Linked DNA regions of Homo sapiens. The protein of the gene in region 1 interacts with the protein of each later gene in a biochemical or structural test. Each region holds a gene or a part of one and is shown in the gene's direction. Other genes may lie near its edges. The genes, in order: RAP1B and RGL2.

Region 1 (2,798 bases):
GGGTGACAGAGCAAATCTCTATCTCAAGAAAAAGAAAAAAGAAAAGAAATTAAGCAAAATGATCTTAAAGTTCAAGTGAAAGAGTAGAGTAGAACTGAGTCCAGAACTAGATTCCAGTATATGACGTTTATACGTGACAAAAATATATTTCTTTTTCTTTCTTTTTTTTTTTTTTTTTTTTGAGACAGTTTCCCTCTTGTTGCCCAGACTGGAGTATAATGGCACGATCTTGGTTCACCACAACCTCCGCCTCCCAGGTTCAAGTGATTCTCCTGCCTCAGCCTCCCGAGTAGCTGGGATTACAGGCATGTGCCACCACGCCTGGGCTAATTTTGTATTTTAGTAGAGATGGGGTTTCTCCATGTTGGTCAGGCTAGTTGCGAACTCCCAACCTCAGGTCATCTGCCCGCCTCAGCCTCCCAAAGTACTGGGATTACAGGTGTGAGCCACTGTGCCCGGCCGACAAAAATATATTTCAATAGAAAATAGTATCAGTAAAATGCTAGCACAACTAACTATCTGTCTAAAGACAATAAAAGTTCAACCCCTATATCATGCAAAAAGCACTTTCCAGATATATTAAAATGTTTTCAAGCTATAAAGTAAAACAGTAGAAGTCTTAGAAGAAAATCTAAGAGACTAGAAATCTAGAGATAGGGTAGACCTTCTTAGCTAATTTTTAAAAATGAAGCTATATTTAAGATATATATTTCAAGTAAATAATAAGTGTGTGTGTGTGTACACACAGATGCTTCTCAGCTTACAATGGGGTTATGTCCCAATAAGCCCATCAGAAGTCAAAAATGTAAGTCGAAAATGCATTTAATACCCTGATAAATCCATCACAAAGCTGAAAAATTATAAGTAAAACTGTAAGTCACAGACTGTATATATAAATTTAAAATTTGGCAAAATATATTGCAAAGTCAAATTTGGGAAAGTATAGCACAGATAAAAGATTAAACTATTCACGGCCAGGCACGGTGGATCATGCCTGTAATCCCAACACTTTGGGAGGCCGAGGCGGGTGGATCACCTGAGGTCAGGAGTTTGAGACTAGCCTGGCCAACGTGGAGAAACCCCATCTCTACTAAAAATACAAAATTAGCTGGGTGTGGTGGTGCATGCCTGTAATCCTAGCTACTCAGGAGGCTGAGGCAGGAGAATTGCTTGAACCTAGGAGGCGAAAGTTGCAGTGAGCCAAGATGGTGCCATTGCACTCCAGCCTGGGCAACAAGAGTGATACTCCGTTTAAAAAAAAAAAAAAAAAAAAAGGTAAACTATTCAAAAGATAAATGGTTGAAAGATATATAACTAGGCAGTTTAGATAAGAACAAATCCAAATGGCCCATCAACATAAAAAGATGCTCTAACTGTAGCCAGAGAAATACGAATCAAAGTACCAACGAGCCCAACACATGGACGAAAACTTCAGAGAACACTACAGTCCCAGAAGAGAGGTAAAGGGCAAGAAATGAATCATTTATTGCTGATGGAAATGTGCATTGTAGAGCTGATATCTGTTCAAATTAAATATGCATATTTGACCTCAATTCTACTACTGATATCTACACCAAGGAAATGAAAGGAAATGCACAAGATTATTTATTGCCACACTCTAGAAGGAAAAACAGAGTGCATGCCCATCAATAGAATAGTTGAATAAATTATGATTCATGCATAATATAGAACATTATGCATTCATTTAAAAATGAGTTTGATGTTTAAAGGTTGACTTAGAAGGATTCCCGTGCAAAGTGAACAAAACAGAATACCGAGAAGGATGTATGTGAGGGATGCATGTGGGCACCTGGGAAAGGAGATGAAGAAAGCAACTGAAGGATATTTACCAAGTTGTTAATATGCATTACCTGACATGGTGATATAGGAGTAGGGGTGAGGAAGTGAAGGATCTGAGTAGGTGGAAAAAGAAAAGCAAAAGTACAACAGCGGGAGAAAAAACAGGATGACTCGTCTAGAAGAGACATTGTCAGTAACAAGTAAATAACATTTTCTGGAATATAAAAAAAAAAGCTATATGAATGTCATCATTATATGTAAAATATGAATGTAAAATACATGGGAGGATAATATGCATTAATAAAAATTATGGTGCTGGCAACAGTATCATGGATGACTGTATTATTATTTCCTTTTCCTTAACATTGTTATGCTATCTTTGAGTAAAATTAATTTTAGAAATTTAAAAATAATTGTCATTATACTTAAACCTTATATTTAAACAAGAAAATAATTCAAAAAACCAAAGCAGTTTAACTTTCTTTCATTACCTGAAATTCAGCCTTTTTACACAGCTAGAGAACTTCAGTTGATCTTGTGAAGGACAAAGAAGCAGAAAGACTTCTCTAGGATGTTGGGTTTCCTAAAAGTTAAACTCAATCATTTAAAGTTGCAAATAGGTAGGCAGGATGGATTCTGAAGCACAGATTTCCCAAATGCCCTTTTTGCAGCAGATTCAGCTTCTAAACAAGTTTCAAGGGCAATGTTCATGATAGACGCAACTTTTTCTTAACATTATATTGCATTGTCAATATGTATTCCATCATTTTATGCTTTTCAATGCACTTCCATTTATAAAAGCCGCATAGTTTGCTCTTATATGCCAATATGTTTGTAGCTCAAAATATACTTGAAATATTTTAAGTCCGTTTGTGCTCTTGATTTATGAACTAAATATACTACATTTTCCATTGTTAAAATAACACCTTGGCTAGGTGTGGTGGCTCATGCCTATAATCCCAGTGCTTTGGGAGGCTGAGGCAAGAGGATCACTTGAG
Region 2 (7,727 bases), on another chromosome or scaffold:
ATCTAAACACAGAAATCATTTATGTTTCCTATACACCTTATACACATGGCCTGAAGATTTTTTTCCTTCTCTTTTTTTTTGAGACAGAGTCTCTGTCGCCCAGGCTGGGGTGCAATGGTGCGATCTCGGCTCACTGCAACCTCCACCTCCCAGGTTCAAGCGATTCTCCTGCCTTAGCCTCCCGAGTAGTTGGGATTACAGGCACCCACCACCACGCCTGGCTAATTTTTGTATTTTTAGTAGAGACGGGGTTTCACCATGTTGGTCAGGCTGGTCTCGAACTCCCGACCTCAGGTGATCCGCCCGCTGCCTTGGCCTCCCAAAGCGTTGGGATTACAGGTGTGAACCGCTGCACCCGACCACAATATTTTTAATAATATATGTGACCCATCACATGAGGGCAGCTGTGGGATTTTCCACTTGTGGCATCATGTTGGCACTAAAAAAATTTCAGGTTTTGGAACATTTCAGATTTTAGAGTTTTGGATCGGCGATGCTCAACCTGTACATCCAAAATATTATTGCAACATGTAAACAATATAAGAAATTACAGGCCGGGTGCGATGGCTCATGCCTGTAATCCCTGCACTTTGGGAGGCCGAGGCGGGAGGATCACCTGAGGTCAGGAGTTCAAGACCAGCTTAGCCAACATGATGAAACCCCATCTCTACTAAAAATACAAAAAATTAGCCAGATGTGACGGCACCTGTAATCCCAGCTACTCGGGAGACTGGGGCAGGAGAATCGCTTGAACCTGGGAGGCAGAGGTTGCAGTGAGCTGAGATCACACCATTGCACTCCAGCCTGGGTGACAAAAGGAAAACTTCGTCTCAACAACAAAAAAAAAAGAAAAAGAAATTACAGTCTTGGCCAGGTGCGTTGGTTCACGCCTGTAATCCTAGCACTTTGGGAGGCTGAGGAGGGCGGATCACCTGAGGTCAGGAGTTCAAGACCAGCCTGGCCAACATGGTGAAACCCCGTCTCTACTAAAAATACAGAAAAATTAGCCGGGCATGGTGGTGCACACCTGTAATCTCAGCTACTCAGGAGGCTGAGGCAGGAGAATTGCTTGAACCTGGGAGGTGGAGGTTGCAGTGAGCCGAGATCGCACCACTGCACTCCAGCCTGGGCAACAGAGTGAGGCTCTGTCTCAAAAAACAAAACAAAACAAAACAAAACAAATTAGCTGGGCATGGTGGCACACAGCTATAGTCCCAGCTACTTGGGGAGCTGTGGCAGAAGGATCGCTTGAATCTGGGAGGGTGAGGCTGCAATGAGCTAAGGTTGTCCCACTGTACTCCAGCCTGGGTGACAAAGTGAGACCCTGTCTCAAAAAAAAAAAAAAAAAAAGAAAGAAAAGAAAATAAATTGCAGCCCTTTTCTCACCTTAAGTATTCAAACACAGGTGTTTATTTTAAATAGTCAGCACATCTCAATTCGGACTAGCCACATATCAAATGCTCAATAGCCTAATGTGGGTGGTGGCTGTCATATTGGACAGCGGAGCCTGAGAGGACTTTTAGGAGGATTAAGGAAGACAGTGTATCTCCTTAAGAAGATGCAGGAGATACAGCACTCAGCAGTGTCTGGAGGGCAGAAAATATTAGCCTCATCCTTCTCCCATCATCTGTGCCCATGATAGTTTATATGTCTCTAAACTGACCATGTACACCTCAACTGCCTTTTAATATCCTGAATTCCTCACCACCTTCCTCTCTTCCAGAAAGCAGAGTGAGGGCACTCACTGCCATCCTGTGGAAGCCACCATCATCTCTGGCCCAAGCTTCTGTAGTAGCTCCCTAAAATAATACCCTATCATCTGCTCCTAATCCCTCCAATCTCTCTCCACTGAGTGGCTGGAATGCTTTTTTTTTTTTCTTTCACTTATATAAGGGATAATTTTTCTTTTTTTTTTTTTTTTGAGACGGAGTCTCACTCTTCCGCCCAGGCTGCAGTGCAGTGGCATGATCTTGGCTTACTGCAACCTCCGCCTCCTGGGTTCAAGCAATTCTGTGGCTTCAGCCTCCGGAGTAGCTGGGATTACAGGCACATGCCACCACACCCAGTGAATTTTTGTATTTTTAGTAGAGACGGGGTTTCACCATGTTGGCCAGGCTGGTCTTGAATTCCTGACCTCAGGTGATCTGCCCACCTCAGCCTCCCAAAGTGCTGGGATTACAGGCGTGAGCCACCACACCAGGCCCGAGAAATGCTTTTTTAAAAAACACACATCTTATGGCATTCACCTTCTTGGAGCTCTAGGACAGTGGTTCTCAAAATTTTTTTCTCTCAGGACCTCTTAAAAATCATCAAGGACCCCAAAAAGCTTTTGGGTATGTGGGTTATAGCTATCAATATTTATGGTACTAGAACTTAAAAGTGAGAAAAATTTAAAACACGAGAATACATAGGCACACATTCTATTCATCGTGGGAACCATGGTGTCAATACATATCATGTAGCTTCTGAAAAACTCCACTGTACACTTATAGAATGAAGAAGGCAAAAAACTTTTTTTTTTTTTTTTTTGAGACGGAGTCTCGCTCTGTCGCCCAGGCTGGAGTGCAGTGGCGCGATCTCGGCTCACTGCAAGCTCCGCCTCTCGGGTTCACGCCATTCTCCTGCCTCAGCCTCCCAAGTAGCTCGGACTACAGGCGTCCTCCACCATGCCTGGCTAATATTTTGTATTTTTTAGTAGAGACGGGGTTTCACCGTGTTAGCCAGGATGGTCTCGATCTCCTAACCTGGTGATCCGCCCGCCTCGGCCTCCCAAAGTATTGGGATTACCCGCGTGAGCCACCGCGCCCGGCTGCAAATAATCTTTCTTTTTTTCTGAGACAGAGTCTCGCTCTGTTGCCCAGGCTGGAGTGCAGTGGCACGATCTCGGCTCACGGCACGCTCCGCCTCCCGGGTTCACGCCATTCTCCTGCCTCAGCTTCCCGAGTAGCTGGGACTACAGGGGCCCGCCACCACGCCCGGCTAACTTTTTGTGTTTTTAGTAGAGACGGGGTTTCACCGTGTTAGCCAGGATGGTCTCGATCTCCTGACCTTGTGATCTGCCCGCCTCGGCCTCCCAAAGTGCTGGGATTACAGGCGTGAGCCACCGCGCCCGGCGGCGAAACACGATATTGTACTAACATCTTAATTTTGTTATAAAATCTCACAAACCCCCTGACATAGTCTCAGAGATCTGTAGGGCCGAGGTTACATTTGGAGAACCCGTACTCTAGGGCCAAATCCATTCTTCTTGCCCTGGCTCACTTGTCCCCCCCACCGCCCCGCGCTGGAGCCACTGCCTAGTTCTTCAGCCCTAGATGGTGCTCGCCAGACCTCCTCTCAATGCTCATCACACACAGGGCTATTCCTTTCCTCCAATGAACCAAACGCCTCCCGCCCACCTCCAGGTCCCAGTCCTCTGTTCCCTTTGCCTGGTCCACCCTTGCCCTCCCTGGGTCGCAGACGAGGTCGGCCTCGTCATTCCCCGCAGACCGCCGCGCGTCCCTCTTGTGCGGTTCACCACAGTTGTATTTAAGTGATCGTGTGAGTCGTCGTTAAATGCCTGTCTCCCCGCGGATCATGGGCTCCTCGAGGACAGGGACTGGCCTGTCTGTCCACTGCTGTAACCCCGCGCCGGCATAGGGACCTAAGGCCCACTGGAGGGCGCTCATCAAGTAGCTGCTGGATGTTGACGAAGGAAGCGGCGGCGCAGCTCAGGGATCTCCGAGTCAGGACGGTCGGCCAGACCCACGGGGTAACGGGTCTAATCGTGTAGGAATAAAGCTGTATTCCAGTGCTTCCAAACGGTTCTCTCATTCCAACCCCTTTCCAAGCTCAATGAATATTCCAATCACCTCTGGTCCCTTCCAGTGACCCTGAACCGCTCAGAGAACGCCCCGTCGACACCGTTCGGGGCGGGCGCCACTACTGGCGCATGAGATGCGCTCAAGCAGAGGGTACTCCACCAGCGAGGATACACCGAGCCGACGGGGATCTCGGTCTCGGCGCCGGAAGCCTCTGAGAGCCGAATCTGGAACCGGATGTGGCTGCTTCCTGCCCCGCCCCCTGCCGAGGGGGCGGGAATCGAGGGCCCTTCGGAAAACCCGGCCGGGATTTCGGTCAGCTACATTCGTGGGTTGTGGTAGGGAGGGTAATCCCGTGGGGATGGAGTGACCGGCTCTCTCTCCGCCTGAAACGCTTCCCGCGGGAGTTTTAGCCGTGTTATTGTTGGGGAAGGGAATGTCAAATTCTGCTCCTGCCTTCCCCCAGGGGCTGGAGACTGGAATCTTTATTCCAGTTCATTGCGGGTCGACGTGGTCTCCAGAATCCCCGAGTGTAGAGGCGGAGGACAGTGGAGCTGGGGACTCGGGCGCCTGGGTCCTGGTCCCTGAGCGTCCAGCGCTCCCCTAGTCCGCGGCCCTGGCTCCTGTCCTCACTTCCTTCCCCTTTTGGCTCCTGCTCTCGGAGCGGGCGGACGCGGGGGGGAGCGGAAAGGGCGGGAGGGCCCAGGAGCCCGGCGGGGGGGTTCAAGGGGGTACGGAAAAGCCGGGGAGGGGACTCGGTCCGGGGCCGGAGACCGACGGCAACAGCGGCTCAGGACCCACGCTGCCCCCACCCCTCCCGAGCAGGTCAGAGCCTGAGCACCCTGCGCGTCCCCGTACTCGTGACCTCCTCCTTCCCCAACAGCACCAAGGGCCCCCCTATTCCACCCTTCTGTTGCCCCCTCCCCCAACCTTCCTGCAGAACTCCCTTCCGGTCTTCTTGACACCCACCCACGTCCCTTCCCTGCCCGGTTCCCCCGCGCCTGCCTGACTCTCCACCCCCACCCCACCCCGTCTCTCCCCAGGCGCCCCCATGGCCCGACCCCGCTGATTCCTTCACTCGGCCATGCTCCCGCGGCCCCTGCGGCTGCTTTTGGACACGAGCCCCCCCGGGGGAGTCGTACTGAGCAGCTTCCGAAGCCGGGACCCCGAAGAGGGTGGGGGCCCAGGTGGCCTGGTCGTGGGCGGGGGGCAGGAGGAAGAGGAGGAGGAAGAAGAAGAGGTGAGACGCGGGTGGTGGGAGGTAGGGGGCGTATGTATTTCTGAAGTCTCCACTTTTCTCTTGTCTCTGGGTCCCTACATCTCCTCCTCCTTGCCTCAGTTATTCTCGCGCCTCCCTGGGTGTCGGCCCGTTTCTCTGCTGCGGGGAGTCCTGGCGTCTCCGTGGTTCTCTGTCAGTGTGACTCAGGACCTGCCCGCAGGAACCTGCCCTGTTCCTGCCTGGAACTTCTGGCTGGCTGTCCTGTCCCTGCGGGTCTTTGGCCCTCCACCTCTGCCTGCCTGAGTGTGCCTACCTCTCTGAGCAGTCGTGTCTTGGTCCCTGTCTCCCTCCTTGTTTTTGTTTGGCGGGGAGGGGTTTGTTTCCACAGTAACCAGCTCCTCTGACTCTGGGATTGGGGAGGGAACCCTCAGATTTCGTGACCCCTCCTTCCCTCTCTCCCCCTTCCCCCCGCCCCCCCGCCCCGCCCCGGTCCTGGGTAGAGGCCGGGAAGCCACGGTTCTGGGACCTGGAGGAAAGATCCTAGGGTGGGTAGAGAGTGGTCATCTGTTTTCATTAGGGATTAATGGTGGTGGCCAGGAGCAGGATTTCGGGCCTCAGGAGGGGCCAGAATTTGGATTTGGGGCCCCGAGGCCCTAAACTCCTAGGTCCAGATCCTAGGTGAGGGCAGGTTGACTGGCAGGGCTGGTTTTTCGGGATCGGTCGGGGGAGGGGCTGGGGCCACGTGACTCTCTGAGTCTACCGCCCCCAACCCCCTATCATCCCACTTCCCCTTTTCCTTCCTGTACTGGGATTGGAGCTGCTACCTTCGGGGGTCCCTTAGGGCTGAGATAGTGGAGGCGCTACCCGAGGGACCAGGGTGAAAGGGGTCCTGAAAAAGACTAATTCTCTGGGCTGGTATAGTCCTTGGCCGGGAGGGGCGGGGCATGCGGCAGTGCCTGGACTGAGGTTTCAGCTACCCCTAGTCGCTGCCTCTGGCTTGCTGCCTCTCGCTTCCCTCTCCTGCCCTTTGTACCCTGCTTCTCTGTCGTGTGTGGGTTCAGCTCTGGGGAGAAGGGGCTTTGGGGGTCTCCAGGATCAGAATTCCTGTACTCCATCCACGCCTCCACTGCAGCCCCTTCGACTCCACCGGGGCCCTGAGGCGGCTGGGGTGGGGCTGTCTGGGCCCCAGTGGGGGAGACCTGGGGTCACCAGCTCCCCCAACCCTTCCTCGCACTCGCTGGTACTATGCCCTGCCACCACAGGTGAGGGGTACAGAGGGAGGAGCAGGGCCTGGGGTGAAGGCTGAGGGCAATGGGGGGTGGTGTGGAACTGTCTGACTTCCCCTTCCTTGCTCCTCCAGGCCCCTGTGTCCGTCTGGGATGAGGAGGAGGATGGTGCCGTGTTTACCGTCACAAGCCGCCAATATCGACCTCTTGATCCCTTGGTGAGATCATGACTTTAGCTTCTCACCTCTGACTCTTCATTCCCAGTTTTCCTTCCTCTGGCTGACTTTCTGGCCAGAGTGCTAGGTTGGAGTTCTGGAGTCCTGGACTCTGCTGTGTGACATAGGCCAAGACTCTTGCCCTCTCTGAATATCAGAAAAATGAGTCTGGAACATCTCCTGGGTCTGGGATTGTCCTCAGAAATCTAGGTGCAGAGTGGGAGAAAGGGTTAGCGATCATCTCTCTGTGTTCTCCAGGTCCCTATGCCTCCCCCACGTTCCTCCCGACGGCTCCGAGCTGGCACTCTGGAGGCCCTGGTCAGACACCTACTGGATACCCGGACATCAGGGACTGATGTGAGCTTCATGTCAGCCTTCCTGGCTACCCACCGGGCCTTCACCTCCACGCCTGCCTTGCTAGGGCTTATGGCTGACAGGTCAGAGTCATAAGGGACGCAGGGTAGTGGAGTATCTGCCCGGATTTCCTAAAGCCGCAACATCCCACCAAAATAGTCAAAGCCACTGAGGGTTTGGGAAAAATGGACAGATAGATCCTCTTCTCCCCCTCAGGCTGGAAGCCCTTGAATCTCATCCTACCGACGAACTAGAGAGGACAACAGAGTGAGTGACCCCTGGTTCTTAATCTCACAGTCCCCTCTGCCCAGGCTGCAGCTTTACCTCTCACCCTTGGCTGATTCCCTTCTCCCAGGGTAGCCATCTCTGTACTGTCAACCTGGCTGGCCTCTCACCCTGAGGATTTTGGCTCTGAGGCCAAGGGTCAGCTTGACCGGCTTGAGAGCTTCTTACTTCAGACAGGGTATGCAGCAGGGAAGGGTGTTGGGGGGGGCAGCGCTGACCTCATCCGCAATCTCCGGTCCCGGGTGGACCCCCAGGCCCCCGACCTTCCTAAGCCCCTGGCCCTCCCCGGCGATCCCCCTGCTGACCCCACGGATGTCCTGGTGTTCCTCGCTGACCACTTGGCCGAACAGCTGACCCTGCTAGATGCGGTGAGACCCTGACCTCTGGCCCCTATGCCCCCTGACCCCTTACTAACCTCTCCTTGACTCCAGATCCTTTCCTTGCTTCCACCCCTTCCTGATCCAGCTCCTAGCCTCCTCCACCTACCATTTTGATTCTCCCCTTTTCCCTTTGGTCGTTACCCTTCAAACCCTGTGCCCCTCTGGTTCCTTGGCCACCTGAGATCCTCAGATCCCTGATATTGGAAGGCTGACCTCACTTGACTATGAACTTTAACCTCTGACCTCTA

Evidence for each region.
Region 2: the proteins of RAP1B (region 1) and RGL2 form a complex in vitro, tested with the Homo sapiens proteins (one study listed by BioGRID).

The regions. Positions count from the first base shown.
Region 1 is NC_000012.12:68,669,775-68,672,572, forward strand, and holds the end of RAP1B (ras-related protein Rap-1b isoform 1 precursor), read left to right. Parts: 3' UTR 1-2,127; downstream 2,128-2,798. UniProt on the Homo sapiens protein: GTP-binding protein that possesses intrinsic GTPase activity. Contributes to the polarizing activity of KRIT1 and CDH5 in the establishment and maintenance of correct endothelial cell polarity and vascular lumen.
Region 2 is NC_000006.12:33,295,768-33,303,494, reverse strand, and holds the start of RGL2 (ral guanine nucleotide dissociation stimulator-like 2), read left to right. Parts: upstream 1-4,552; 5' UTR 4,553-4,625; intron 4,626-4,843; 5' UTR 4,844-4,884; coding exon 4,885-5,040; intron 5,041-5,497; exon of another isoform or gene 5,498-5,602; coding exon of another isoform or gene 5,603-5,697; intron 5,698-6,151; coding exon of another isoform or gene 6,152-6,281; intron 6,282-6,379; coding exon 6,380-6,463; intron 6,464-6,718; coding exon 6,719-6,897; intron 6,898-7,030; coding exon 7,031-7,081; intron 7,082-7,169; coding exon 7,170-7,467; intron 7,468-7,727. UniProt on the Homo sapiens protein: Probable guanine nucleotide exchange factor. Putative effector of Ras and/or Rap. Associates with the GTP-bound form of Rap 1A and H-Ras in vitro.